5 linked regions of the Homo sapiens genome follow. The protein of the gene in region 5 purifies or fractionates together with the protein of the main gene of each other region. This does not show direct contact. Each region holds a gene or a part of one and is shown on either strand. Other genes may lie near its edges.

Evidence for each region.
Region 1: the proteins of CD7 (region 5) and FAHD2A purify together in Homo sapiens (affinity purification with mass spectrometry; one large-scale study listed by BioGRID and IntAct). This does not show direct contact.
Region 2: the proteins of CD7 (region 5) and RFT1 purify together in Homo sapiens (affinity purification with mass spectrometry; one large-scale study listed by BioGRID and IntAct). This does not show direct contact.
Region 3: the proteins of CD7 (region 5) and SLC30A9 purify together in Homo sapiens (affinity purification with mass spectrometry; one large-scale study listed by BioGRID and IntAct). This does not show direct contact.
Region 4: the proteins of CD7 (region 5) and PI4K2A purify together in Homo sapiens (affinity purification with western blotting, with the first as the bait; one study listed by BioGRID). This does not show direct contact.

Annotation. Positions count from the first base shown.
Region 1 is NC_000002.12:95,407,056-95,412,707, forward strand, and holds part of FAHD2A (oxaloacetate tautomerase FAHD2A, mitochondrial), read left to right. Parts: coding exon 1-102; intron 103-3,471; coding exon 3,472-3,531; intron 3,532-3,808; coding exon 3,809-3,971; intron 3,972-5,378; coding exon 5,379-5,487; exon of another isoform or gene 5,488-5,621; coding exon 5,622-5,652. UniProt on the Homo sapiens protein: Tautomerase that converts enol-oxaloacetate, a strong inhibitor of succinate dehydrogenase, to the physiological keto form of oxaloacetate. It is thereby required to maximize aerobic respiration efficiency by preventing succinate dehydrogenase inhibition.
Region 2 is NC_000003.12:53,119,112-53,124,763, reverse strand, and holds part of RFT1 (man(5)GlcNAc(2)-PP-dolichol translocation protein RFT1), read left to right. Parts: intron 1-923; coding exon 924-1,040; intron 1,041-2,200; coding exon 2,201-2,390; intron 2,391-2,963; coding exon 2,964-3,065; intron 3,066-4,742; coding exon 4,743-4,880; intron 4,881-5,652.
Region 3 is NC_000004.12:42,086,309-42,091,676, forward strand, and holds the end of SLC30A9 (proton-coupled zinc antiporter SLC30A9, mitochondrial), read left to right. Parts: 3' UTR 1-4,153; downstream 4,154-5,368. UniProt on the Homo sapiens protein: Mitochondrial proton-coupled zinc ion antiporter mediating the export of zinc from the mitochondria and involved in zinc homeostasis, zinc mobilization as well as mitochondrial morphology and health.
Region 4 is NC_000010.11:97,642,993-97,648,644, forward strand, and holds part of PI4K2A (phosphatidylinositol 4-kinase type 2-alpha), read left to right. Parts: intron 1-5,652. UniProt on the Homo sapiens protein: Membrane-bound phosphatidylinositol-4 kinase (PI4-kinase) that catalyzes the phosphorylation of phosphatidylinositol (PI) to phosphatidylinositol 4-phosphate (PI4P), a lipid that plays important roles in endocytosis, Golgi function, protein sorting and membrane trafficking and is required for prolonged survival of neurons.
Region 5 is NC_000017.11:82,313,845-82,320,174, reverse strand, and holds CD7 (T-cell antigen CD7 precursor), read left to right. Parts: upstream 1-2,566; 5' UTR 2,567-2,679; coding exon 2,680-2,761; intron 2,762-3,193; coding exon 3,194-3,508; intron 3,509-3,765; coding exon 3,766-3,980; intron 3,981-4,743; coding exon 4,744-4,854; 3' UTR 4,855-5,302; downstream 5,303-6,330. UniProt on the Homo sapiens protein: Transmembrane glycoprotein expressed by T-cells and natural killer (NK) cells and their precursors. Plays a costimulatory role in T-cell activation upon binding to its ligand K12/SECTM1. In turn, mediates the production of cytokines such as IL-2.

The sequences.
Region 1 (5,652 bases), on a different chromosome or scaffold from region 5:
GAACAGAACGTGCCCGTGCCCAAGGAGCCCATCATCTTCAGCAAGTTTGCCAGCTCCATCGTGGGGCCCTATGATGAGGTGGTCCTCCCACCACAGAGCCAGGTCAGTGTCTCCCCACTGCCCTCCCTAGTCACTGGGCCCATCACAAGGGCATTCTGAGCTCAGTATTGAGCCTACTGGAGCCACCTCTCGCTCAATAGCGCATTCAGCAGAAACTCTACAGGATTGTACACACAGTAGTAACACTGGCCTTGGAAAAAAAAAGTTAATGTACGTGTTTTCCTGGTTACAAAAGCAATGCACCTTCACTGTAGATAATAAAATAGAGATAAACATTAAAAAATTATGTCACCCATAATCCCACTGCCCATGGCTCGGAATATTAATGTTTTTCTGTCTACCTTCCCAGTGTTTCTCCGCTCCTGTATATGTTTATACTGTACATATACTTACCTTTTACTTAAGACTCCATCAGGAGCATTTTTTCATGCCATTAAGTATTCGCCCTGACACCACGGAGTTTGTTATGTAGATTAGTTTATTCCTGAGTACCTTACTGCTGGATACTGTTTCTAGTTTTTGGCTTCTATAAATAAATGTTGCAGTAAACATCCTTATGTGGAAAAGGCTTTGCATGTCCATTAATACATTATTATTTCCTTTGAATAAACCCTTTGGAATTTAAATATGTCAGCGTATAGGCAGTATTTCAAAATTTTTGAAAAATTCTGCCAATTGGCCTTTTAAAAAATTGTAAAAGCAACTTACACATCCACCAGTAGTGTATATACCCTTTCTAACACTGGTTACTTTTTCTCTCAGATTTTTATTTTAGAAATGTCTTGAAAATTATAGAAAAGCTGGGAAAATAATACAGTGAACACTCAGATAACTTTTCCACCTGGTTTCATTGTAAACATTTGGCCATATATCCTTTTTCTCCCTTGTCTTCTCCCTGCCCTCCACATGGCAAACACACATTTTTTTTTTTTTTTTTTTTTTTTGCAGGGTATGGGGTGGAGGGGACCTTTTAAAACACATTGGAAATATTAAGACAATTTAGTCATAAAAACGTAAATAGGCATCTTCTAAGAATAAGGACAATGGCTTGCATGACCATCCCACCATTATCACAACCAAAAAAATTAACTTGAATAATATTTAATATGAAATCCAATTGCCCCAATTCCCAATCGGAAGTACTGCTGACTTCCCCAAAGATAACTTCTAATTTGGTTACTTCGTTTGTTGCTCCATGATCAACCAAGGCCACACACTGTATTCAGTTATATCTCTTTAGTGGTTTCAATCTAGGACAGGGTTCCATAGACTTTTTCTTAAAGGGCTGTATTAGTCTGTTTTCATGCTGCTGATAAAGACATATCCGAGACTGAGCAATTTACAAAAAAAAGAGGTTTAATTGGACTTACAGTTCCACGTGGCTAGGGAAGCCTCACAATCATGGCAGAAGGCAAGGAGGAGCAAGTCACATCTTAGGTGGATAGCAGCAGGCAGAAAAGAGCTTGTGCAGAGAAACTCCCATTTTTAAAACTATCAGATCTCATGAGACCCATTCACTATCATGAGAACAGCACGGGAAAGACCTGCCCCCATGATTCAGTCATCTCCCACCGGGTCCGTCCCATAGCACGTTAGAATTATGGGAGCTACAAGTTGAGATTTGGGTGGGGACACAGAGCTAAACCATATCAAGGGCCAATTAGTAAATATTAGGCTTTGCGTGTCATATGTTCTGTTTTGCAACAATTCAACTCTGCTGTTATAGTGTGAAAACCACGATACAGAAATGAATGATGGGTTTCCAATCAAAGTTGATTATAGCAGATGTTGAGCTGGCCATAGTTTGCCAACTCCTGCTCTCAAACAATACCCCCTGCCCTTTCCTTGAAGAATCCAGTTGTCTCATAGCATGTTTCACATTCTGGGTTTGTCTGGTTGTTTCTTCATGATTAGTGTCAGGGTAAGCATTTTTATCAAGAGATCTACAAAGCAGATGTTATACATTTTCCATCGTATCCCACTGGGAGGCTCATGTCAGTGGTCCCAGAATTTGACCACTTGGTTTAGCTGACATTCACTAGGTCCCTCCATTGTGAAGATGCATTTCTATTTTTGTAATAAGCAATCCATGGGTGGTAGTTTGAGATCACATAACTATCTTATTGCCCCATAGCATCTCATCCAGGGATCCTGTGGTCATCCTGACTGAATCTATTATTGCACTGGGGGTTAGAGAACAATGACCTTTTTTTTTTTTGAGACAGAGTCTCACTCTATTGTGCAGATGGAGTGCAGTGGCATAATTTCAGCACACCTCTGCCTCCTGGGTTCAAGTGATTCTCCTGCCTCAGCCTCCTGAGTAGCTGGGATTATAGGCGTGTACCACCACACCTGGCTAATTTTTGTATGTTTAGTAGAGACGGGGTTTCATCATGTTGGCTAGGCTGGTCTTGAACTCCTCACCTGAGGTGATCCACCTGACTTGGCCTCCCACAGTGCTGGGATTACAGACGTGACCCACCACTCCCAGACAAGATCAATGACTTCTCAATCATGCCTTCTGTTTTTATTGGCTGGCATTCTTCTATGAAGAAAAGCTGCCTCCCTCCTTTTTATTCCTGTCTTCAATATCACTGTGAATTCTGTTTTTACTCAATTGTTTGTAATTCATCATTTACATTCTTTAGGTGACCTCAGTTTGGCCAGTGAGGGGCCTTCAAGTTGGCTCCATTCCCGTCACTTTTAGTATATCCTAGCTTTCTGGCCAAGATGTTCTAGGCTTATCATGTACTGTCTGTCTTGGAACTGGAATTGGCCGTTTCCCCAAGGAACCCAGTGCTCCTTAGTGGGGAGTGGTATTAGAGACCAACATCTGGATGTCGGGTGTACTTACACCAACTCTGGTTATTATTAGAAAGAGCCACCAATTTTAAAGGCCAAATTATATCTATTTTATAGTGTATTTTATGGATTATGGGAGAGGCTGAGCATTTCTTCATGTTTTGTGGCCATGTCCGTTACCTTTTTGTGAATTGCTTACTCAAGTCCTTTGTGGGAGTTAATAGATTAAAACACTTAGAACAGTGCCTGACACACAGTAGGGTTACATATTGCTAGGGGATATTACTTCGTATTTATCCTTTGTTAAAAGTATCCAGAGTGACTTTTAAACTCAGTGCCCTGGACACGTGTTGCTCTTCTGCAGTCAGTGGTGTGGGGACCTGTGCCTGCATCCCATGATGCTGTCTGCCACTGCCCAAAATGTATGGGTCTACAAGTCACACCTCCCTTGTCATTCACTGGGCTCTGGTTCGTGGTGATGGCAAACATGGGATGGCAGCGAAGCCATACTGACAAAGGTTGAGGCCCTTCAGCATGGTGTGCAGCCTCTCAGCATGGACAGTGGGCCCTGAAGCCACTGCAGCTCACTGTTCCTCTCCCACCCTACAGGAGGTAGATTGGGAAGTGGAGCTGGCCGTGGTCATTGGAAAGAAAGGCAAGCACATCAAGGTGAGGTGGAAAGGGTGGGCTCCCAGTCCAGAGTGCAGCAGAGGCCCCAGCTCCTGCCTCTCCTAGTTCTGACCCCACTCACCAACACACGGTGCCAGCTGTCCCTGACACTAGGAAGCAGTCAGCCTCCTTGCTCCCTGACACTGCCTTTCCCTTCACCCACCTTTGGCTGGCTCTGGCTACTAACATGGGATAACAGCTTAGAGATCCCTTGCCATAGGTGTTGGTGTCACCCATGATCTAACCTCCTGTATGGCCAAATCCCCTGCCCCCATAGGCCACAGATGCTATGGCCCACGTGGCCGGCTTCACTGTGGCTCATGACGTGAGTGCTCGTGACTGGCAAATGAGACGTAATGGGAAACAATGGCTGCTGGGAAAAACCTTCGACACCTTCTGCCCTCTGGGCCCTGCCTTGGTGACCAAGGACAGTGTAGCAGGTAGGTCCCTGGTCCCTGCCCCCTTATACCTACCATTGCACAGATGAACAGCGCTTCAGGGAGGAGCATGGGTTCAGGTACATGTGGCACCTGCCCTCCCTGGCCGCCCTTTCACTGCTGACTCCATACAGGGCAAGTCTCTTATCCTCAGCCACGAGTTCTCCCATGGGCTTCCTTCCCAAGCCCCCTAGAGGGAACACAACTGCAGAGGATGTGAAACTGCATGCGTGAAGTAAATTACAAAGAACACTGAGCTGATGGGTGGATCGGGCTTCCTGCGGCTGCCACCTCTGAAACAATCTAAGTTGAGCATCATGGAGCATAGTTATCCCAAGGCCAAGGCATTTTCCACACTACAGGAGATGAAAGCCAGTGTGACTCACCCAGCCACTGTGGAAATAGAACAGCACTGACCACACACAGTCAGGATACAGCGCCAGGATGGGGGCAGTGCCCCAGAGGGCAGAGCGCAGCCTCTTACACAGCCACCCACAACTGTGGTGGAGGTGGGGGGTGTCCACATGGGCCAGCCATGCCAGGATACCAAAGACCCCAGTGCCTCAGCACCCCATGCAGAGTCCTCAGCAAAGTTAAATTGTGTTTCAGCTGCTCTACTTAAGGGGGGTAGAACACTAGGACCACCACCAACAGTAAAAAGTGCTGGTTAGCCAGGATGTTCTTACAGTAATCCATCCCCTGCCAGCATCCAGTACACGAGGCTTCTCTGTCCCGGCTAGAACCATTGCCTCACTGCTTTATAGATGCTGAGTCTTTTTTTTGCCATGGTCTTACTGTGTCACCCAGGCTGGAGTGCAGTGGCCCAATCCCAGCTCACTGAAGCCTCAACCTCCTGAGTTCAAGCAGTTCTCCCGCCTCAGCCTCCTGAGTAGCTGGGACTACAGGCACGCACCACCACGCCTGACTAATGTTTTTATTATTTTTTGTAGAGACAAGCACTCACTAAGTTACCCAGGCTGATTTTGAACTCCTGAGCTTAATCAGTTCTCGCCTGCCTTGGCCTCCCAAAGTGCTATGATTACAGACATGAGCCACCACGCTTGGCCCTGCTGAGTCAATCTACAGGTGTCATCCTATGCTGTAGACAGATGCCCTTATTTTTTTCAAGGCAAAAACCCTAGCCATTTTTCTCTTCCCCTTCAGAGTCTGAAACATCCTCTCAACCCATCCCTGTTACTACTGCTTGGTGCTCTTGGTGGGGATGCGGGGAGGCCTGAGAAGGCCAATGTCTATACAGAAAGTTCTAACATAGAGCACTGAGTCAATGTGGGCACTTTGAAGCCCTTTCACCTGCCAAGTCACGAAGCACCCCTACAGTTGTGTTTGTAAAATATTGGGGGGTTTGAGGGGGAAAAGGGATAACTCCAAGGTACCATCTTTGCATTTCAGATCCACACAACTTAAAGATCTGCTGCCGAGTGAATGGGGAAGTGGTCCAGAGCGGCAACACCAACCAGATGGTATTCAAGACAGAGGACCTGATAGCCTGGGTCTCCCAGTGAGTGACAGGGGCTGTCCTGCCAGCCCCGCTTCACCTGCCACACATGTGGAGGCTGACCTGAGCCCTCCATCTTTGGCTGTGGCCACCTCAGCCAGCCCCTGGTCTCACCGGGTCCTTCTGCTTTGATCCAGGTTTGTTACCTTTTACCCAGGGGATGTCATC
Region 2 (5,652 bases), on a different chromosome or scaffold from region 5:
CTGGGCTCAAGTGATCCTCCCATCTTAGTCTCCCAAAGTGCTGGGATTGTAGGCATGAGCCTGAGAAATATAGGCACTTGGCCCTAAGAAATACTGTTTTAAAAGCAGGAAGGAAGAGGGGCAAATCCTCCTAGGGGCTCAGATTTTTCTCCCCAGGCAGCCTTCCTGAGATTGGCAGGTCCTGCTTTGACAGCCCTTGTCTGGCCTGCCCTGCTCCCCTGCTTAAGGTTTGGTTCCATCTCCTTATTTGCAGTGTTCCACAGAGGCACTGGGTAGCAGGATAATCCTTGGACAACCCCAGAGACCTTAACCCTGGGCTGTCCCTACTCTGGCTTCACCCAGACGGCTGTCTATTGAGGAGGGGAGATCTCAGCTACTCCTCGCTAAGATGCAGGAAGGCTCACCCAGGTGCTGCCCACCTGGGAGGTACCCAGGCACGCCTTGCTGATCTGGGTTGCAGCAGCCTCTGTAATGGTTGCCAGCCTTGTTGCCTGTCTTGAGATTCTTTTGGCCAGAGCCTCCACTCGGTAGAGGCTCAGCTTTTCTCACAGGGGCCATCGGTCACTCGTGTCAGTGTGACCAAGAAGGGTGGGGTTATAATCTTATCTTCTTCTCCTCCTTATGGTCATGGCCACACCTCTGCCTGTAGCCATGAAGGCTGAAGCCTTTTGAGGCCACTGCAGCAGTTTCTATCCTTCACGTAACTGTAGGCACACACCCTCAGGTGTCTTTCATTTGGTTCCTAACTCATTAGTTCTCATGGATCAGACCGGTAGGGGGTCCTGTAAGAGCCCACTGCCTTCCACATCACCACCAGTGGTTTATGACCAAGACTTTATCTCCTCCCTGTTGCTGGAAAAATCCCAGAAGTTCTCTCTATGAAAAAACTTGAGACCTTATTGATTTCTCCCTTTCATTTACAGACTAACGCTGCTTTACTCAACCACCCTCTTCCTGGCCAGAGAGGCCTTCCGCAGAGCATGTCTCAGTGGGGGCACCCAGCGAGACTGGAGCCAGACCCTCAACCTGCTGTGGCTAACGTGAGTTGTGCTTTGGCAGGAGACACGTTTCAGGAAGGCAGGTGTAGTGAGCATTGGAAATGAAACAGTAACACGTGCCTAAAGCTGAATTGCCCCCAGATTCAGTTTCGTCATGGGTTTCTGGGAGCAGGCATACAACAAGACGGGGACAGTGTTTGTGTCAAAGGAACTTCTTGGCTCATTTTCTCTCTGGATATCCAGGAGCCAGGAAGAGGTTCTGGGTTGGGGTTTCTGGGCCAGGTTTCTAGCCCTGGTTTCATCCTCTTTGGAGGTGGTTTCTTGCTGTTTCTGACCACCACTGTGGGCTCCACTTGGCCTGTGCCATCTTTTTTATTCCTAATCTTTTTGCTCTATAATATCTTTTGAGCTTTTAACAGCCACTTAGATTTAGTATTTCTTGAAAGCCTTTTATGGGTTTTATTACATTTTTCTTCAGTTTTGTTATGTGACTTCAGTTCTGAGTCTTTTAGGATATTCTTGAAGATCAAATACATTAGCTTAAAATTGCAATGGCTTTTCTCCAGCTAGGTCCCCACAGGGAGGGCTGGGGTTTGAGGTTATTTCCCAGTGCTGCCCTTGCATAACTCCTTATTGCCTCACAGAAATGACTGTCATGAGGGCTGGTAGGTGTTCATTTTATTAGAGGAACAACTGTTAACCACCCAGTCATATTTAAGTGCCCCATGGTACACATGTGAAACATGCGAAAGGATACTGAGCACTGCTCTGTTGGTTATTTGGGATGCAAGGAACAGCTGTATACAGTCTGTCAGTCATTCTAACAACAGGCATTTTCTTTCTGGGAATTTTGCTTATGGGGTCAGTATGTGTAACCCAGTGGATAGAAGTTTAGGCTTTGGAGTTATTGCAGGATTGGGTCTTGCTTCTGCCCTTGATTAGCTGTTCATGACCTTGGCCAAATTGCCCAGTGCCTGTCAGCCTCAGTTTCATTTTTTTAATGGAGATAATGACAGAGGATCATTGTGAGGTGTCAGTGAGATAAGCGGCGTGAATCATAGTGCCTGGCATGTAGTTAGTATCTTATAAATAAATGGTAGCTGTTTGTATTATAACTATTTTTTTCTGTTCAGTGTTACTATTTTAATATATATTTATATTTATTTTAAAATTTAGTGAATTATTTTTTTCTCCTCTTCTAGAGTCCCCCTGGGTGTGTTTTGGTCCTTATTCCTGGGCTGGATCTGGTTGCAGCTGCTTGAAGTGCCTGATCCTAATGTTGTCCCTCACTATGCAACTGGAGTGGTGCTGTTTGGTCTCTCGGCAGTGGTGGAGCTTCTAGGAGAGCCCTTTTGGGTCTTGGCACAAGCACATATGTTTGTGAAGCTCAAGGTCAGTGCACCTTCTGCTGTGAATGGGAAATGGGAAGAATAAGAAAAAGCGTTGTTTTTTAAAAATGCTTTTATAGGAGAGAATGAATGATTTTTCCAGACTTGCACCTAAAAATGTATTTAGAAAAAGATAACATGGTCAGTTAAGTTCTTACACTTGAAATTTGTCAGATGGGCTAGGCTAAAGTTCACCTCTGTTTCACCATAAATAAAAAACAGATTTGCTAATAATTTATTAGTTCAAGTCAGAATTTAGAAGGACCGTAAAGGTTTTTCAGATTTTTCTAGTGGTTATATTTAGTTGTATACTAACATTAACTTTTCTCTCTTCATCTTTTATAATAGATTACAAAAGAATATATATTTAATGTAAATCTTAAAGCATAATATACTGAAAGATCCATGAACCCACCACCCTACCCAAGAAGTAAAACGTTACTGATACTTATGTCCAGCTGTGTGCCCTGCCCCCACAGCCAGGGTGACCACTGCCCTAGATTTTCTGTCTATCATTCCATTACATCTTGACTTTTTGATGATGTTTGTAAACTGCACCTTAACCACATGTTTGCAGGTGATTGCAGAGAGCCTGTCGGTAATTCTTAAGAGCGTTCTGACAGCTTTTCTCGTGCTGTGGTTGCCTCACTGGGGATTGTACATTTTCTCTTTGGCCCAGGTAAGAATCATGGCTTTTAACTTTTTATATGATCTTTGTTTCTCCAACTGGTTTTTCTTCTTGTTCCCACCGCCGTGTGGTCTGCATTCACAGTACCCATGCCTGTGCAGGAGGTGGAAGCACCAGAAGGGTGGCCTTAGCACTGCTTCTCTAGCTGCCAGGTCCATTGTGTTCCATACACTGAGACCGTAGGTGTTTCTAGGGACCTGGTGAGGGCCACACACTGGACTTCATTGTCAAACATCAAAAACCCCTTTTAGACATTCAGTGGGCAAGCCTGTTTCAAACTGATCTTTGGTCATCTGATAGTCTTGTAAAGGAGAAAAAAATCAGTGGGGGGTGGGGTGGGAATCAAATTGTATATGTATTATTTTCCCTGGATTTCCATCTTTTTTTTGCAGAATAGGTGGAAACTCTGCCAAGCCTGTTTTAAACTTAGTTTGAAATCTCACATAATTCAGAGGGCATGAATCAAGTCAGAGTAGGTATGTGTTCAGTTTTAGCAATTTAGGCTTCATTTCCATCTCATTGTTTCCTAGTTCTAGTTCATATTTCTGGTTCTAATAAAAATACAACTAGAGTACAAGTGCTATTTTTAAAAATGAAATTTAAGATCAGATAGTTACCAGAACATTTTACAGTGCAAAGCAGTTGTAGTTTTCATTAATGTTTAGGAAGATAAATTAAGATTCTTAGTAATGATTTATGTAAAGGGTACTTCTCACAGAGGACACTGGCATCAGGTGGGTGGCTCACAGCAGTGCCGCTGGAGCTTTAAGGGCTTGGAGCATGAAGAAAGAAGGCTGGTGGATGATGGGCTTTGTCTCAGGCATGGTTGGGAGTGGAGAGCAGAGGGGCCCACACCTACTAAAGTGAGACTCTTCTTTTTCCTTGCCCTGTGCCTTTACTACAGGAGCAGCCTTGATATTGCCAGGTTGAAAGCAAGTCTAGAGGTGCCAGTCTTTCTTGAACCAGTGTGCACTGCTGTTCTCAGGAGGGAAAGAGGGTCGAAGGGAGCTTGTGAAAAGGGGCTTTTTTGGACTTTCCTCCTCAATCTGCAGACAAAACCCATCTGGCTGCTCCTGGCCAGAAGCCATTCTTTTGTCCTGGATGGGTGGAGGGAGGGGTGGGCCCTCTTATCACCCTACCCTTTCTTCCCCTATCTGTAGTAGCTCTTGCCCTGGCGAAGAGGAGAGAGCCAGCAGCTCAATTGTGCTTTGTAATCATTAATGGCACAGGTTTCCGGGGTTTATAGAAAACCCACAGTCCTTGATGACGGCAAGTCCTTGGATATTAACACAGTTAGGATACATAGATCTTTGCAGGGTGCTGACTAGGTGGAAGAGCCGTTCCTTTGGCCAAATACACACCTTTTGAGAATGTATCAGACATGGCTGTGGTAATTGAGCTAGTGTACATCTGTTATGGAAATTACATTCTGCCTGCCGAGAAGAATTATGTTCTTCCAGTTAAGTGAAGTGTTGGGAACACTTTGCAGGTAGATGCTGCAGTGGAGTTGGGTCTAAGTGACTAGTGCCATTTCCCAGAGGGTAAGGCATTGCTGAATAGAAAGTGCAGTTAATCAAGAGAGTTCTATTACTTGACTGGCCTTTGAGATCAAATTTATAGGCATATCTTAATTATGCCTTTATTAAAACAGTTTATTTTTTTTCTCAGCTTTTCTATACCACAGTTCTGGTGCTCTGCTATGTTATTTATTTCACAAAGTTACTGGGTTCCCCAGAATCAACCAAGCTTCAAACTCTTCCTGTCTCCAGAATAACAGATCTGTTACCCAATATTACAAGAAATGGAGTAAGTAATACATTTTTATCTCTTATCATTTTAATCATAGGTGCTGCTTATCCTTGAGAGAAAGAAACTGCAACTGGTTTATTGTTATAATCATAAATAGAATTTTATAGCTCATATTTATGGAGTGCTTGCTCTATGCCAGGCCAGGGTTTCTAAATCTTTGCACTGTGGACATTTTGGGCTGCTCAATTCTTTGTTGTAGGGGCTGTCCTGTGCATTGTAGGATGTTTAGCAGCATCTCTGACCTCAAACCACTAGATGCCAGTAGCAACCACCCCTCAGTGGAGCACCCCAAAATGTCTCCAGACGTTGCCAAATGTCCCCTGGGGGACAAAATTGCCCCCAGTTGACAACCACTGTGCTAGACCCTATGCTGAATGCTTTACCTGCCTTATTTAATGCTTAACAACAACCCTGAAAGGCTGACACTGTCTGTTTCTATTTTAGGGTTGAGAAACTAAGGCTTAGTGAATAAATACCTGTCCTAGGTGAGGGTCAGAGTGAGGACAGCAGCCTGGAGGGGCTCACATGCCAGCAGAGCACAGGCTCCACCATTGTGTTCCACTCTCTCTATTCTGCTGTGGTTTTGGTTTTCTTCCTCAGTTGACTTCTAGCACACAGTTGAGAGTTCTGAGAAAGTAGGGATGAACCCAAAATGGTCTTTTTTTTTTTTTCTCCTTGAGACAGTGTCTCATTCTGTTTCCCATAGTGGCGTGATCATAGCTCACTACAGCCTTGACCTCCTGGGCTCAAGTGATCCTCCTGCCTCAGT
Region 3 (5,368 bases), on a different chromosome or scaffold from region 5:
ACATCTAACAGACACACTACAAGTTGAATCAATTTGAAAATCATGTTTTTATGCTTCCATAGGGAACATTTTGGTTATTTAAATTGTTCATAATGTCCCATATTTCACCTGTTCAGTGTATACTGTACTTTGCAATCATCTTTCCTTTTTTCACATTGGTAAAAATAAGTGGCATCCATAGGATCATGATTTTTAATTTGTTGCCTCTGAAGATTTCACTCCATCAAGATCTGCCAATCTTCAATATTCTGGCTAAATCTTGGTATGTGGTTTTTAAACAGTCACTCCGTTTCAAAGTCTGTCTTTCCTTATAGAATGTGGAAATTATTTCTCCATACCTTGTGATTTTGACCTGAGTGCTAAGAGAATCACTCTCCTTACCTAGTTATCTACAAATGTTCATTCCAGAAATGTTTAGTTACTGAATTGAATGAAGACATCTCAGTACACTCTTTTAGGTCATAGTAGTTGCCATTTTGTAAAATTTCTTTTTTCTTCTTTGCTTTTTTCCCCTTATTTGGTTTAATTTTTCTAATGTTAGGAGATATAGTCCTAGATATTTCCATGGGCCAGTGTGATGACTTTTTTTTAAATGAGGTTCAGTACCATAATGTTTATTTACTGGAAGATAATGCATTTATAAGCATTTTAAAATTCTGTAAAGTGGGTTAGAAATATTTATAATTTTACAGGCAGGACAGCATTTGACTTTTATTTAAAAGGCGGCACTACTTATGTAAATCTGAGCTGTGGGATATTTCTTGCTTTAAGAGAGAGACAGAATCTCTCACTGAAACTCATGGTCATGATTTTGTATAATATAGTTCATACTGTGTCTGTGAGTTTCTTCAGTTACAAATGGGCATTTAGTATAGTTATATTGACTATAACATGTAAGTAAATAGCTTTCTACTGACCCTAAGTTATCAAGGTGGAAAAAAAACATGCAATTCAGTAATTGAAAATGTGGTGAAAAGCTGCAGCTGTCATCATCAAAACAACTCATAACATACTTTAAAATGTTCAGGTAGCAGTGAGCATTGTTCATATGAGAATGGCGGCTGGGTGATCTCTTTGCTGAATTAATGAGTTCTTAACATGTGGACCCAACTGCCTGTGTGAGATCTGTGTCTTAAAACTTACTGGAATGGAAATCTATGAATTATTGCAAATTGTAATGCTGGAAACAAAAAATAAATCCTTGGTTAAAGGGTTTGTAATGGTGATTTTTGACCCAGAAATCTCATTTACTGGAAAATTGTGAGACTTTACGTTGGTGTATTTTTCTTTTTTTTTTTTTTACTATTACAGAGTATTTTGCATGCTGTACATTTTAAGTGAAATAACATTCCAGTTTTATTTTTAAGATAGAAAATTGTTATATATATATATAATTTGATACTCTATTCTTACAGTTTCAAATTCCTTATCCCTTCTTTACAAAAAAAACTTTTTTTTTACCTGTTATGATTTATTCTATACTTTTTTCTTCTTCCTTCCCCTTTCCCACTTGCCATTTATTACTTCATGTCATTGCCATATGAGAAAGTACCAAATTATATCCAGTTTCCTCCTAGTGATATTACTCTGAAAAATTTCACAAAGCCAGACAAGAATAATTACTCATTTTTTTTCCCAAGACGACCCTCAAAGTTAATGTGCAGCAGGTATTCCAAATGGTAATTTTTTTTTTTTAGGATTCCCTAATAAAAAAAAAAAAAATTCTGATATTTCTTTTTAAATCTGATTTTGGTTGAGGTCATACCATTCTTAAATAATAATTGAAGGTTTATGTTGCCATCTTTTCTAATTCTGTTTTGCACTGATAAACTTACATAAAGTTTGTTTATGTAAAATAAGACATAAAGGAGTACAACATATCAAGGAATTTGAGTATTTATGTGGAATCAGGAAATTTTTCTAGAGTCACTGAATTTTCAAATCAGAGAATTTGGGCTGGATATGGTGGCTTATGCCTGTAATCCCAGCACTTTGGGAGGCCGAGGCAGGAGGATTGCTTGAGCTCAGGAGGTCAAGACCAGCCTGGGCAACACAGCGAGACCTCATCTCTACTAAAAAAAGTTAGCCGGGTGTGGTGGTGCTCACCTGTGTTAGTCCATTCTCACACTGCTATAAAGAAATACCTGAGACTGAGTAATCAAAAAAAGAGCTTTAATTGGCTCATGGTTCTGCAGACTGAACAGGAAACATAGCAGCTTCTGCTTCTGGGGAGGCCTCGGGAAACTTCATTCATGGCAGAATACGAAGGGGAAGCAGTCATAGCCAGAGGAAGAGCAAGAGGCGGGGATTGGGGGTAGGTGCCACACTCTTGTAAACAACCAGATCTCATGAGAACTCACTATACAGTACCAAGAGGGGAAGGTGCTAAAGTATTCATGAGAACTCCACCCCCGTGATCCAGTCATCTCCCACCAGGCCCTACCTCCAACATGGGATTACAATTCGACATGAGATTTGGTGGGGACAAAGATCCAAAGCATATCAGCATCTGTAGTCACAGCTACTTGGGAGGCCGAGGTGGGAGGATCACTTGAGCCCCAGAGGTCGAGGCTGCAATGAGCTATGATCATGCCACTCCAGCCTGAATGACAGAGTGAGATCCTGTCTCAAAAAGAGAATTTGGGTCTCTTTCTCCAAAAATAAGGCTATATTTAGTTTTTCAGGTTTCTTGTTATTTTACCAAATTAATGTTTCTTACTTTGTATCTACTTTGGCATATAGCATTTGAGTATTAAAGCATATAAATCATTTTTAAGGAAAATATTCTCTGCAGGAGAATAATTACAAAAATAATACTGGACAGAGGAGGGGCAGTCAAGGGTCCATGATTGATTCCTTCTTGCCCAAAACTAAAATCTAGGATTTATCAAAGGTGAGGTATACAGTGGTCCCTGACTTATAATGGTTGCACTTAAGAATTTTTATGATGGGTTTATTGGCACATAACCCAATAATAAGTAAAAAGCATCTGTACCTACTTTTAGCTTTGGCTGAGAATGGATCTCTAATTCACTGTAAGTAGCAGTCCCCAAACTATATAAGGTGGCACAGTTTTCATCATGGCAGTGGGAGGATGAGGGGTGGAGTGTTTTTGTTTTTTTTGTTTTTTTTTGAGACAGAGTTTCGTTCTTGTTGCCCAGGCTGGAGTGCACTGGCACAATTGCAGCTCACCGCAACCTTCACCTCCCGATTCAAGTGATTCTCCTGCCTCCTGAGTAGCTGGGATTACAGGCATGCGCCACCACACCCGGCTAATTTTGTATTTCTGGTTTAGACAAGGTTTCTCCATGTTGGTCAGGCTGGTCTTGAACTGCCGACCTCAGGTGATCCGCCCTCCTCGGCTTCCCAAAGTGCTGGGATTACAGGTGTGAGCCACTGCTCCGGTGATCTGTTTTTAAGTGGAGTATCCTGGGGGCCTATAGTATCCAACTCCAAAGAGGTAAGTTCCTGAACATACACTAAAGAACCTGTGAGATAAGATCAGACGGAAAAATTTTCAAATTTTTTCAAAAGCAAAGGTAATCCCTGCATACATCCTCCTACACACACACACATAGTGCAAAGTGAATAACAAAATGTCATAAGGCTTGAGTTTTTGGTATATGGCTTTCAGTGTTACCTTATCTCATAATTTAGGTAATGATTTTTGCTAAAATGATAACCATCTAAAGAGTGCCTAAGTTTTAAGTCTCGTAACTTTTTGAGGAAGAATGCTGGGAACTACAGAAAACTGCATAGGCATTTAGAATTTGTATTATCTTCTTAGACTGCATTTGTCAAGCTTTGGCAGCATTTCTTTTAAATGTGATGAACCCCAATTTGCCAAACTGTCAGAAGTCAGTGAAGCAAAGAATCGAAGGTAAAATGTTGATTCAAAGATTGTCTCCCCTAAATCCTTCATTTCTTTCTCTGAAATGGAACTTTGGAAGCCATTTATATAGATTAGTCTGACAGCCTTTATATTTGCATGTAAGTTTACTTGCATCCTTAGACTTGGCTTTATGCAAAAAGAAAATTTTTATTCGTTATATTGTATTTCATCTGTCTGATTTCCCTGGCACATTAAGATGGTCCTGGTCCCTCAGGATACTTTTTCCCTTAATAAATGTCATATGTAAATAAAGGCAACTCATTTATTAGTTTGGGATTTTTTTTCCCTTGAGAAATAAATGTTTGTTGAACATAAATTCTTCTTTACCTCATGTGCTAAGAACTAAACTATATAATCTGATATATTTTTTATGCCTATGTTTTTGAACAGAATTTGTTACTCATTCAGTGTGCCTGTTAGTTTTTTTTTTTTTTTTTTTTTGAGACGGAGTCTCGATCTGTCGCCCAGGCTGGAGATCCGCTCACTGCAAGCTCCGCCTCCCAGGTTCACGCCATTCTCCTGCCTCAGCCTCCCGAGTAGCTGGGACTACAGGCTCCCGCCACCACGCCCAGCTAATTTTTTGTATTTTTAGTAGAGACGGGGTTTCACCATGTTAGCCAGGATGGTCTCGATCTCCTGACCTCGTGATCCACCCGCCTCTGCCTCCCAAAGTGTTGGGATTACAGGCGTGAGCCACCGTGCCCGGCCGCCTGTTAGTTTTTAGGATTTCTTTTTGGTCGTACAAAACCTAACTATAATAACTCTTAATCATTTTATAATCGGTTTCACTTTAAAGAGAACTATTCATTTTTTGGTTTTATAAAACCAAACTATAATAACTTAATCATTTTATAATCGGTTTCAGTTTAAAAAGAACTATTAATATACTGTTTATTAACATATTAACATTAATATGTTTGGTAAAACAAAATTTGGAAAGTTATATTCCTTAGTGATATATATTTTCAGTACATTTTGACATAACTAGATTATTTAACATTTTAATTAGGCTGTTTTGTTTCAGATGTGTCTACAAGAGTATGTTTAGAGAAAAAAATACAAAACATGGAAACATCAAAACCCTCAACCTAAGGCCAGCCTGCACTGTGATCTAAATTGAACTCTATACTAATCCTGTGGGAATTCCAACTGTATTTTCTTTTTCATGAGAAACTAAACCAAAGTAATTTGGTATTTTGAGAGGGTAAAATTCCCTCCCAAAATTCAAAACCTATTGAAAGTAGAACCACTACAGTTTATGATTTGCACAGGAAAATAAAGAATTGTATGTGTCATTAGGGCCCAAAATACAACCCTTTTAAAAGGTTTTTAAACGGCCGGGCGCGGTGGCTCACGCCTGTATTCCCAGCACTTTGGGAGGCCGAGGTGGGCGGATCACGAGGTCAGGAGATCGAGACCATCCTGGCTAACACGGTGAAACCCCGTCTCCACTAAAAATACAAAAAATTAGCAGGG
Region 4 (5,652 bases), on a different chromosome or scaffold from region 5:
GTCTTTCTTTCTTTCAGAGAAGGTCTCACTCTGACACCCAGGCTGGAGTGCAGTGGTGCAGTCTCACTGCTCACTGCAGCCTTGACATCCAGGGCTCAAGGTCCTCCCACTCAGCTTCCGAGTAGCTGGGACTACAGGCACGCACCACCACACCCGGCTAAAAATTATTTTTCATGGAGACAAGAGTCTCGCCATGTTGCCCTGGTTGGTCTCAGACTCCTGGCTTCAAGCAGTCATCCTCTTGCCTCAGCCTCCCAAAGTGCTGGGATTACAGGTGTGACCCACCATGCCTGTCCTTTTTTTGTGGGCAGAGGGTATTTTTAGTTTGTTGGCAAATGTAAGAAGGGGCTAAGATTATCTTTGATAGGTACAGGAGAAGGAGGAATATTTTTGTTTTTCTTTCATGACACTGTTAGAGCTGCATTGGAAGTGGGTTAGGTCAGCTGAGAAGTGAGCTGGTGCTTTGACAGATGGAAGTAATACGATCTCTTAATTCTACCTGGCAGGTAAAGTACTACCATCTCAGTACATAGGCCACAGAGAAGGACAGACCATAGGTATGTTACTTGGTGATTTAGGGATTCCAGTCTCTAAAATTTCCTGGCCACTATCCTTTCTCATAGGGGAAGTCCAAACACAGATGCCCTGACAAAACTTTTTGACGTACTCATACTGCTTCCAGTGAAGAAAATGTGATTTAGAACAAAGGGCACTTTCTAAATGCTTGCGGTGGGTTAGACTGGCCCACAGACTTACTGTAGTTGGAATTGTCATCTTTGGCTCTCCTCCAAATGTATTTACTTTATTAAACAAATACTTACATAGCATTTACTATATTCCTTTAAGTGCTTTACAAATAATAACTCACTTAATCTTTATAACCACCCTTGGAGGTAGGTACTGTTATTATCCCCGCAGGTGACAACACAAGCCCATGGTATAACAAATTTTTCCAAGGTCTCACACCTAGTAAGTGGTAGAGGCAGGATTGGGCCAAGGCGGGTTGGCTGTGGAGTTCATGTTCTCACCACTATCCTTTGCTCCCTCAGAGTCAGTCATCAGAATTTCCATATTCTGGACAGGTGCGGTGGCTCACGCCTGTACTCTCAGCACTTTGGGAGGCCGAGGCAGGCGCATCACTGGAGGTCAGGAGTTCGAGACCAGCCTGGTCAACATGGTGAAACCCCATCTCTACTAAAAATACAAAAATTAGCCGAGCACTGTGGCAGGCACTTGTAATCCCAGCTACTCGGGAGGCTGAAGCAGGAGAATTGCTTGAGCCTGGGAGGTGGAGGTTGCAGTGAGCCGAGATCGTACCACTGCACTCCAGCCTGGGCGACAGAGTGAGACTCCGTCTCAAAAACAAAACAAAAGAAAAGAATTTCTAAATTCTCTTCTCAGCTACTATATTGGTTAGTATTGAATTTGACTATATGTGACAGATATTTTAAAATAATGATGACTTGAAAAAAGGTTCATTTACACCTCATGTAAAAGAAGTCTATAGGCTAGCTGCTCAGGCATGCTCAGGGCTGGCATGACATTTCACTTTATTGGAGACATAGGGTTCTTCCTGCCAGCTGATCAGCCATCTTTAGGATATGGCTTCTACTACATGGTCCAAGATGGCCGCTCAAGCTGCAAACATCTTGTCTGCTTTTCAGCCATTTGGAAGAAGGAAAGGGAGAGGGTGAATATGCCCCCATCCTTTAAGGCACTTCGTAGAAGTTGTAGGAGACTCTTCTACTTACATTCCATTGTCTAAAACTTAGCTGTAGTAGTGGCTGGGAACTATAGTCTTTTTTCTTTTTTCGCCCAGGTAAAAATCATGGGTCTTGTGTCTAGGGAACAAGGGGGAACAGAGATTGGGAGAACCAGCACTTTCTGCGACAGCCACTTTTGGATCTTAGACAGTCTGAAAGATTCTTGAAGATAACAGCCCTGGTCCCATTTCTCAATTTTGGATGGTTTCTGTCTCAGTGGGGTCCAAGAACAGATGGAAAATGCTAGAAGTCATGGGGAGAGTATACACATACCCCCCTCACTTACCTCCTTGTGCTTCAGGTCTCATGCTCACTCAACTGCAAAAGGGTTTTTTGAGCTTTTTCTCTTTTGCGTGGAGTAATACTAGATTTTCACATTGCCAAGAATCATAGGACAGCATGTGACTCACTAGGTTAAGAGGATTAAATGACATATCACACATGAAAGCCCTGACGTAGTTCCTGGCACTTAGTTGGGGCAGCTCAATCAGATTTTTAAAAACATTCCTACTAACTGCTTAATTAGGGTTCTTGGGGTACATGGTATCGAATAAGGCTATAAGAGTTGGTAGATGGGGCGCAGTGGTTCACGCCTGTAATCCCAGCACTTTGGGAGGCTGAAGCGGGCGGATCACAAGGTCAGGAGATAGAGACCATCCTGGTTAACATGGTGAAACCCCATCTCTACTAGAAATACAAAAAATTAGCCGGGCGTGGTGGCGGGCACCTGTAGTCCCAGCTACTCGGGAGGCTGAGGTAGGAGAATGGCGTGAACCCGGGAGGCGGAGCTTGCAGTGAGCCAAGATCGTGCCACTGCTCTCCAGCCTGGGCGAGACAGCAAGACTCTATCTCAAAAAAAAAAAAAAAAAAAAGTTGGTAGATGATGCTTAAAATCTCGAGACCTACATGTATGACAAACTTGACTGCCTCTTAACGTTTTAGTAAAATAATTTTATTATATTTTATTATATATATATTTTTGAGACAGTTTCTCACCCTGTCGCCCAGGCTGGAGTGCAGTGGCACAACCTTGGCTCATTGCAGCCTTGGCCTCCCAGTGTTGGGATTACAGGTGTGAGCCACTGTGCCTGGATGGTTTTATATATTTCAACAAGCCCTTCCCTTCCTTTTGTAAGAATGAACTTGTAAATAAGGCTTCTCTACCTAAATAGCTAAATCAAGGACTACTATTTTCCTCCAACCTATACCATAGAATACAGCAGTTCTTAGAGTGTGGCCCAGGGATCTTGACCTCTGGGAGTTCCTTTTTGGGGTCCACAGGTCAAAATTATTTTCATCATAATTCTAAGACTTTATTTGCCTTTTTCATTCTCATTTACTTAGGAGTGGAGAGTGGAGATTTCCAGAGACTACATGATGTGTGATATTGAAACAGATTGAATACTAAGATATGAGATATAGCCTTTACCCACATTAACAAATGCTTTTTGGAGTCCTTAATAATTTTTTTTTTTTTTTTTGAGATGGAGCCTCACTCTGTCGCTCAGGCTAGATCAGGCATGATCTCGACTCACTGCAACCTCTGCCTCCTGGGTTCAAGCAATTCTCCTGCTTCAGCCTCCCAAGTAGCTGGGATTACAGGTGCGCCCACCACCATGCCCGGCTAATTTTCGTATTTTTAGTAGAGACAGGATTTCAGCATGTTGGCCAGGGTGGTCTCAAACTCCTGATCTCAGGTGATCCACCCGCTTTGGCCTCCCAAAGTACTGGGATTACAGGCATGAGCCACCACACCCAGCCTAATTTTTAAGAGTTTAAACTTTTTGAGACCAAAACGTTTGAGAACTATCCACTTAATGTTTATGAAACTTTAAAAGAAGACTTTTATAAAAGGTAATTTCTGTATATTTCACTGTGCGATGTGAATGATATGCTTGAACTGTCTTACATTTTAGGTTCTTGGAGAAAGGACCTCTTTTAGCATAGCATGACACCCTCCTCCTTGTCATTGCTGATTAGATATAGGAACCCCGCTGGGTTCCAGGTTCCAGTAATTTTTTGTTGTTGTTTGTTTTGAGAGGGGGGTCTAGCTCTGTTGCCCAGGCTGGAGTGCAGTGGTGTGATCTTGGCTCACTGCAACTTCCACCTCCTGGGTTCAAGCGATTCTCCCGCCTCAGCCTCCTGAGTAGCTGGTACTACAGGTGCATGCCACCATGCCCGGCTAATTTTTTCTATTTTTTTTTTTTGTAGAGATGGGGTTTCACCATGTTGGCCAGGCTGGTCTTGAACTCCTGACCTCAAATGATCCACCTGCCTTGGCCTCCCAAGTGCTGGGATTATAAGTGTGAGCCACTGCGCTGGGCTCAGGTTCCAGTAATTGGTTGTGGGTTCTGACACCAGCTGGTGCATGGCCTCTTGCTTTCTTGTGTGATTTGGTTTTTATTCCCAACTTCATGGACTGCTACTGCTTAAGCTATCTGTACCTCACCCCTCCTTTGTTAAAAGGGGAGATTAGTAAATGGGTGTTAAGAAAAGTTGTTTTTATAATATTGGCATCAAACTGAAGCTCTCTCCTAGATATAATAAAGGAATTGAAAATCTATTAAGAGAAAAAAAACACAAAATATTAAAGAAGAGAGTGGATGGTGAGGAAAAATTAGGCAGTAGTCATTTTCTTTTCCAGCTAAATACTGGTGGGTGTCTTTCCAATTTGAGTGGTTTTAGAGTTTGTTCTCCATGAATGAGAAGAGTATTCTTGATTATTCAGTAGCATAGTTGATTTTATGAAGTGAACATTGGAAATTAGGCCAGAGGGTATTTTACCTCTCTGTCTAGGAAAGCCACCAAATGCCTGCAGAATGCTTGCACATCGTTCTCCACAGGCTAGGTCCTGAGCAAATGCTAACATAATTGAATTGAACTGAGGCTTACACTTAGTCCTGAAAGGCACTTGTCTCCCCTTCTGTCTGAATGCCCTTTTGTTCCTCCATTCTTCATACTCTAACATTCCCTCATTGATCTAGTCCAGGCAGTATTCTTTAATAAAACCCCTGTACTATTGCATAACCATAATTACTCATGCTTTTGGAGTCATTGAAATGCTTCTTATTCTCCTTATGGTAGAAGGAAATCAAGATGTTTGAGAGGTCAGTCTTTAAATGACACTTGACTGCAATCTTGGCCTTCAAGTTCTGCTTGCTTTTTTTTTGTTGTTGTTGTTTAATTTTTCTTTTTTAGAGATGGGGTCTTGCTCTGTCACCCAGGCTACAGTGCAGTGGCATGCTTCTAGCTCACTGCAGCCTTGATCTCCTAGGCACAAGGGATTCTCCCCGCCGAGTAGCTGGGACTACAGGTGCATACCACCACACTTAGCTAATTTTTTTTTTTTTTTTTTTTGAGATGCTATTTCGCTCATTGCCCAGGCTGGAGTGCAATGGCATGATCTCGGCTCACTGCGACCTCCACCTCCCAGGTTCAAGCGATTCTCCTGCCTCGCCTCCCGAGTAGCTGGGACTACAGGCATGTGCCACCATGCCTGGCTAATTTTGTATTTTTAGTAGAGATGGGGTTTCTCCATGTTGGTCAGGCTGGTCTCGAACTCCTGACCTCAGGTGATCCACCCTCCTTGGCCTCCCAAAGTGCTGGGATTACAGGCATGATTCCCGGCTAATTTTTAAAAATTAGTGACAGAGTCTTGTGGTATTGCCCAAACTGGTCTCAAACTCCAGGCCTCAGGCAATCCTGCCTCATCCTCTGAAAGTGCTGGGCTTATAGGCATGAGCCACCATGCCCAACTTTTTCTGTCTTTAAGTAGAAGTATTTACCAGTTGACCTCAGCCCTGGTATTTTTCAGCCCCCAGTAGTAGTAGGAGTGTCTTGGCCTCCTTTTCATTGAGGACCAGCTTACTGAACTCCATAATGTGCCTCA
Region 5 (6,330 bases):
CGAGCCACAGCCTTGCTAGGGTGCTCCAGGGTCTCTGCGCAAGATTCTGCCCCCAAACCCTCTGTCTCTCGTTTATGGAGAGCCTGGGGGAGGAAAACCGGCTCCCCCAGGACCCTCGGCCCAGCAGAAAACCTGCACCACCCCACAGCCCCACCCGTGTCTCCGCACCGGCTGCTGTGGCTGGGACTTCTGGGGAAGGAGCTCAGGGCTGCAGGTCCGTGTGTGAGTCACGGGCACACATCTCTGCACACACGCGTGAGTCACGTGCACCCTTCTCTGCACACACACGTGTCCACATGCACCCGTTTCTGCACACACGCATGGAGTCGCGCACCCGTCTCTGCACACACGCATGGAGTGACGCGCACCCGTCTCTGCACACACGTGTGTCCACACGCACCCCTCTGCACACATGCGTGGAGTCACGCGCACCCGTCTCCTCACACACGCGTGTCCACACACACCTGTCTGCACACGAGTGTCCACACATTCCCGTCTCTGCACACGCATGTCCACGCGCTCCCGTCTCTGCACACACACGTGTCCACACGCACCCCTCTCTGCACACACACATGTCCACACGCTCCTATCTCTGTACACACGCGTGGTCATGCACACCCGTCTCTGCATACATGTGTGGAGTCACGCGCACCCGTCTCTGCACACACGCGAGTCACGCACACCCGTCTCTGCACACACACGTGTTCACATGCACCCGTCTCTGCAAACACGTGTGGAGTCACGCACACCCGTCTCTGCACATGCGTGGAGCCATGCGCACCCGTCTCTGCACACACGCGTGTCCACACGCACCCGTCTCTGCACACACATGCGTGGAATCACGCGCACCCGTCTCTGCACACACGCGTGGAGTCATGCGCACCCATCTCTGCACACACACGTGTCCACACGCACCCGTCTCTGCACATGCGTGTCCACACACATCCATCTCTGCACACACGCGTGTCCACATGCACCCGTCTCTGCACACATGCATGGAGTCACGCGCACCCGTCTCTGCACACACAAGTGTCCACACACCCGTCTCTGCACACGCACGTCCACACGCACACGTCTCTACACACGCACGTGTCCACACGCACCCGTCTCTGCACACCCGCGTGTCCACACGCACCCGTCTCTGCACACACGCATGGAGTCACGCGCACCCGTCTCTGCACAAAGTGTCCACACACACCCGTCTCTGCACATGCGTGTCCACACACACCCGTCTCTGCACACACGCGTGTCCACACACATCCGTCTCTGCACACACGCGTGGAGTCATGCGCACCCATCTGCACACACACGTGTTCACACGCACCCGTCTCTGCACATGCGTGTCCACACACACCCGTCTCTGCACACACGCGTGTCCACACGCACCCGTCTCTGCACACACGCATGGAGTCAAGTGCACCCGTCTCTGCACACACGTGTCCACACACACCCGTCTCTGCACACGCACATCCACACGCACACGTCTCTGCACACGCACGTGTCCACACGCACCCATCTCTGCACATGCGTGTCCACACACACCCGTCTCTGCACACACGTGTCCACACGCACCCGTCTCTGCACACACGCATGGAGTCACACGCACCCGTCTCTGCACACACAAGTGTCCACACACAGCCGTCTCTGTACACGCACGTCCACACGCACACGTCTCTGCACACACACGTCCACACGCACCCGCCTCTGCACACGCACGTGTCCACACGCATCCGTCTCTGCACACACACGTGTCCACACGCACCCGTCTCTGCACACACACGTGTCCACACGCACCCGTCTCTGCACACACATGTCCATACGCACCCGTCTCTGCACACACACGTGTCCACACACTCCTGCTCATGTGCTGCACCTACTGGCTTTGGGCACCAACGTCAACGCTTCGTCATTGTGGCGGGAGGCCCTCAGGACAGAGAAGTGCCCCCTCCCAGAGGACTCAGTCACCCTGGGGTCAGAGCCCAGGCACAGGTCTCCCTCAGCCCCTGAAGCTGGGCACTGCGGCCTGACGCACTCCTCCCAGGGAGGTCGGGAAACCTCAGGCCTGGACCATACCTCAGACCTCCCGCCTCCAGGACATGGAACGCAGAGCCACGGTCAGCTGGTCGGCTGCAGCGTTGGGTGCGGGTGCAGGCCCAGGCTCCTTCCCCACGGCCAAACCAGGGGGTGCCAATTCTGGCCTGCCCTGTGCTCCTCTGCACTGTGTGGGTGACTCATGGGTCATGGGTGGCTCCAGATTTCTGGGCATAAATTGGGTCCCAGCAGAAAGTACCCCAGAGGACCAGGCAGGCTGGGGGCCAGCTCTGCCGCTCACTTCCAGACCCTGCCACCCGTCCCCAGCCAGGGAGTCCCTTCTCTGTCCTCTGGTCTGCCCCGCCCCAGGCCTTGACCTCCTCCCTGTGGAGATGCAGGGGCAGTGGGGGATACAGGGACGCCCTGCTCTCAGGGCAGCTCTCAGGGAGGCAGTGCTGGGGAGGGGTAGGTGAGACCGCCCCTCCCACCGGGCCCACAGCACCACCCTGGTCTGAGGCACCGCCTCCAGGAAGCCCTCTCTGAGCTCTGAGCGCCTGCGGTCTCCTGTGTGCTGCTCTCTGTGGGGTCCTGTAGACCCAGAGAGGCTCAGCTGCACTCGCCCGGCTGGGAGAGCTGGGTGTGGGGAACATGGCCGGGCCTCCGAGGCTCCTGCTGCTGCCCCTGCTTCTGGCGCTGGCTCGCGGCCTGCCTGGGGCCCTGGCTGCCCAAGGTAAGAGCTTCCCAGGCTCTCCATGGCCACAGCTCCAGAGCTCTCCCTGCCCCATGAGCTCAGAGCCCCCAGTCTGAGCCACAGCACAGCCCCCAGGAAGCGGGTGGGGTGCTGAGCGGCCTCCAGTGTCTGAGGACTCATTTAAGAGAAGGAAAAAGGGTGGACCCCGGTGGGGAGTGGCCGGGGCTGTCCAGGCAGGGCCGCTGCTTTGGGAGGAAGAAGCCCACAGTCTCGGAACACGAGGACAGCACCTCCCCCAACACCACAGCCGGTGCCCAGATCTGCTCCATGCCCCGTAAGGCACCGTGTCTTTGGCGACATGTCAGCCCTGGGCTGTCTCAGGGCCCCACCATCCCCACCACTGTCCCCTGCAGGGAGGACATTCTCTGTCCTTCTGGCCAGACTGATGGTGACAGCCCAGGTCCTCCCCAGAGGTGCAGCAGTCTCCCCACTGCACGACTGTCCCCGTGGGAGCCTCCGTCAACATCACCTGCTCCACCAGCGGGGGCCTGCGTGGGATCTACCTGAGGCAGCTCGGGCCACAGCCCCAAGACATCATTTACTACGAGGACGGGGTGGTGCCCACTACGGACAGACGGTTCCGGGGCCGCATCGACTTCTCAGGGTCCCAGGACAACCTGACTATCACCATGCACCGCCTGCAGCTGTCGGACACTGGCACCTACACCTGCCAGGCCATCACGGAGGTCAATGTCTACGGCTCCGGCACCCTGGTCCTGGTGACAGGTAGGGAATGTGCCCATCCCAGACCCCCCTCCCAACCCCAGCTGCTGGCCAGGCTCTGCTCCCCCAGCCCTTGTCGTGGGACCCTCCCTCCTACATGTGCCTGAACTGTTCCAGCTCCCAGCCCACTGCCCCCAGCAGCCTCCTAGATAGCTGCCCCTCCTCCCCTCCACAGCCTTTCCCTGCCCCGAATCCCAAACCCCGGGGGCTCTAACAGGTTCTCCACCGGGAGAATCCCTTCCTTCTTTTTTCCTTCTCAGAGGAACAGTCCCAAGGATGGCACAGATGCTCGGACGCCCCACCAAGGGCCTCTGCCCTCCCTGCCCCACCGACAGGCTCCGCCCTCCCTGACCCGCAGACAGCCTCTGCCCTCCCTGACCCGCCAGCAGCCTCTGCCCTCCCTGCGGCCCTGGCGGTGATCTCCTTCCTCCTCGGGCTGGGCCTGGGGGTGGCGTGTGTGCTGGCGAGGACACAGGTCAGTGTGAGCCCCAGCTGCCACCTGCACCCCAAAGATTGTTCCCTCTCCTGAGAGCAGCGTGGGGGGCGCCAAAGCCCCAGAGGAAAACCCTGGTACCCGCCGCCTCCTCTGCAGGCTCTGGAACTCTCAGGGTGGAAGTGGCCTCGGCGGGGAGGGAGGGGGACCAGCACCAAAGCGACCTGAGGGGGAGGGAGCAGCCCAGGCGCTGGGCCCGCGTGTGCGCGTGTGCGCGTGTGCAGGTGTGAGTGTCTGAGGGGGGATCTCTGAGGTCTGTGCGTGCAGGTTGGAGTGTGCGGGCAGAGGAGGGAGCGCCCAGGCGCTGGGCCCGCGTGTGCACGTGTGCAGGTGTGAGCCTGTGTGTGGGGATCTCTGAGGACTGTGCGTGCATGTTGGAGTGTGCCGGCGTGCTGTGTGGCCGTGGGAAGGGGAGGGGGCCTCAGACAGACACAGAGTCTAGGCGTGGCCACTCCCCTCGGTCCCTGCTGTTTGTCTGGGGCTGGAGTGGGGGTCCCGCTTGGCTTGGGCTTGGTGGGGGGGTCCAAGCCACTTCCACTCTCCTTCTTCAGAGGCACCCCAGGGTCCGACCCAGCCCTGCCTGGGGAAGGCTCTGCTGGGAAGCCCTGGGGCTCAGGAGACCTGGGGGCCAGCCCAGAGGAGCCCCGTGGGGGTCTCGTGTTAAAATTAGAAAGCTGACCGGAGTGGGGTGGGGTCCAGGACACCACGCTGGCCACTGGTTGGAGACGGCGGTTCTGTCTTTCAGATAAAGAAACTGTGCTCGTGGCGGGATAAGAATTCGGCGGCATGTGTGGTGTACGAGGACATGTCGCACAGCCGCTGCAACACGCTGTCCTCCCCCAACCAGTACCAGTGACCCAGTGGGCCCCTGCACGTCCCGCCTGTGGTCCCCCCAGCACCTTCCCTGCCCCACCATGCCCCCCACCCTGCCACACCCCTCACCCTGCTGTCCTCCCACGGCTGCAGCAGAGTTTGAAGGGCCCAGCCGTGCCCAGCTCCAAGCAGACACACAGGCAGTGGCCAGGCCCCACGGTGCTTCTCAGTGGACAATGATGCCTCCTCCGGGAAGCCTTCCCTGCCCAGCCCACGCCGCCACCGGGAGGAAGCCTGACTGTCCTTTGGCTGCATCTCCCGACCATGGCCAAGGAGGGCTTTTCTGTGGGATGGGCCTGGGCACGCGGCCCTCTCCTGTCAGTGCCGGCCCACCCACCAGCAGGCCCCCAACCCCCAGGCAGCCCGGCAGAGGACGGGAGGAGACCAGTCCCCCACCCAGCCGTACCAGAAATAAAGGCTTCTGTGCTTCCTTTTCTGACTTCTGCATTTATTCCTCAGCCAGCAGGAGCCAGGGAGGGAGATGGCTGACACTTCGGACCCTCCCCAAGCCTCCGCCTGGGGCTCTGCAGCTGTGGCCTTGAAGGTGGGGAAGGGAGCACTTCCTCACCCCAGCCCTGAAAGGAGCCCTGGGGGCCTCCCACCCTTGAGAAGAAGCACATCCACCTGTCCAGGTGGAGGCCAGACCCAGGGGCCCTTCAGGAGCCTCAGGATGGCCCCCCATGCCCCCGACCCCCACTCCAGCGACACCGCCTCCCGAGGCCTCCGAGGCCGACCCCAGGGCACACCGGGACCAGCAAGCTGAGCACAAGGCTGCCTCACTCAGCAGCCTGAGCGCTTCCCCTCCCTGCCCCGTCTTACAAGGTGCCTCCTCCTCGTTCTCAGAGGCCCCGGGGGAGACCCAGCTGGACTCTCCAGACCTTCCCCAGCCAGCGCAGCTCCCATGCTGCACGTGGGGACAGGAGCCACCATTCGCCCATTCCCGGGGGAAACAGAGGCACTGGCCCTCAGCCACTGCCTGGGGAGCCGCTAGGGCGCCACACACTGCACTTCATTGCCTCCTGCGACACAGGTGGGGAGCAAAGGCGGGGCCTTATGTGCAGGCTCCTCACCCACCCCTCACACCTGCCCCTCACTCACCCCACACCCACACCTCAAGCCCTTCCTCCTGCCGCACTGGCGCGTTAACCCGGGGTCCTCCTTGTGCAGGACGCGCCCCACAGCCTCATCCAGCTGCCTCTGTGCAGGCTCTAGGCCACTGTCCTGGTGTCCAGGACTCACGTCCAGGAGCCGGCCTCTGGTCAGCACCCCTAGCTTCACATGGGCAGCCTGGGGCGGCCTCCAACCTTGAATGTGGTCTCTGTGACACCTGGAGTAGCTTCTGGGCCGAGGCCCAAGTCCTCTCCAGCCCATCCAGGCCCACCGTCAGGAGGAGAAATCAGAGTGCCCTCTCTCCCCAGGCTGCCGTCATCCCAGGCCGCCGTCATCCCAGGCCGGCAGG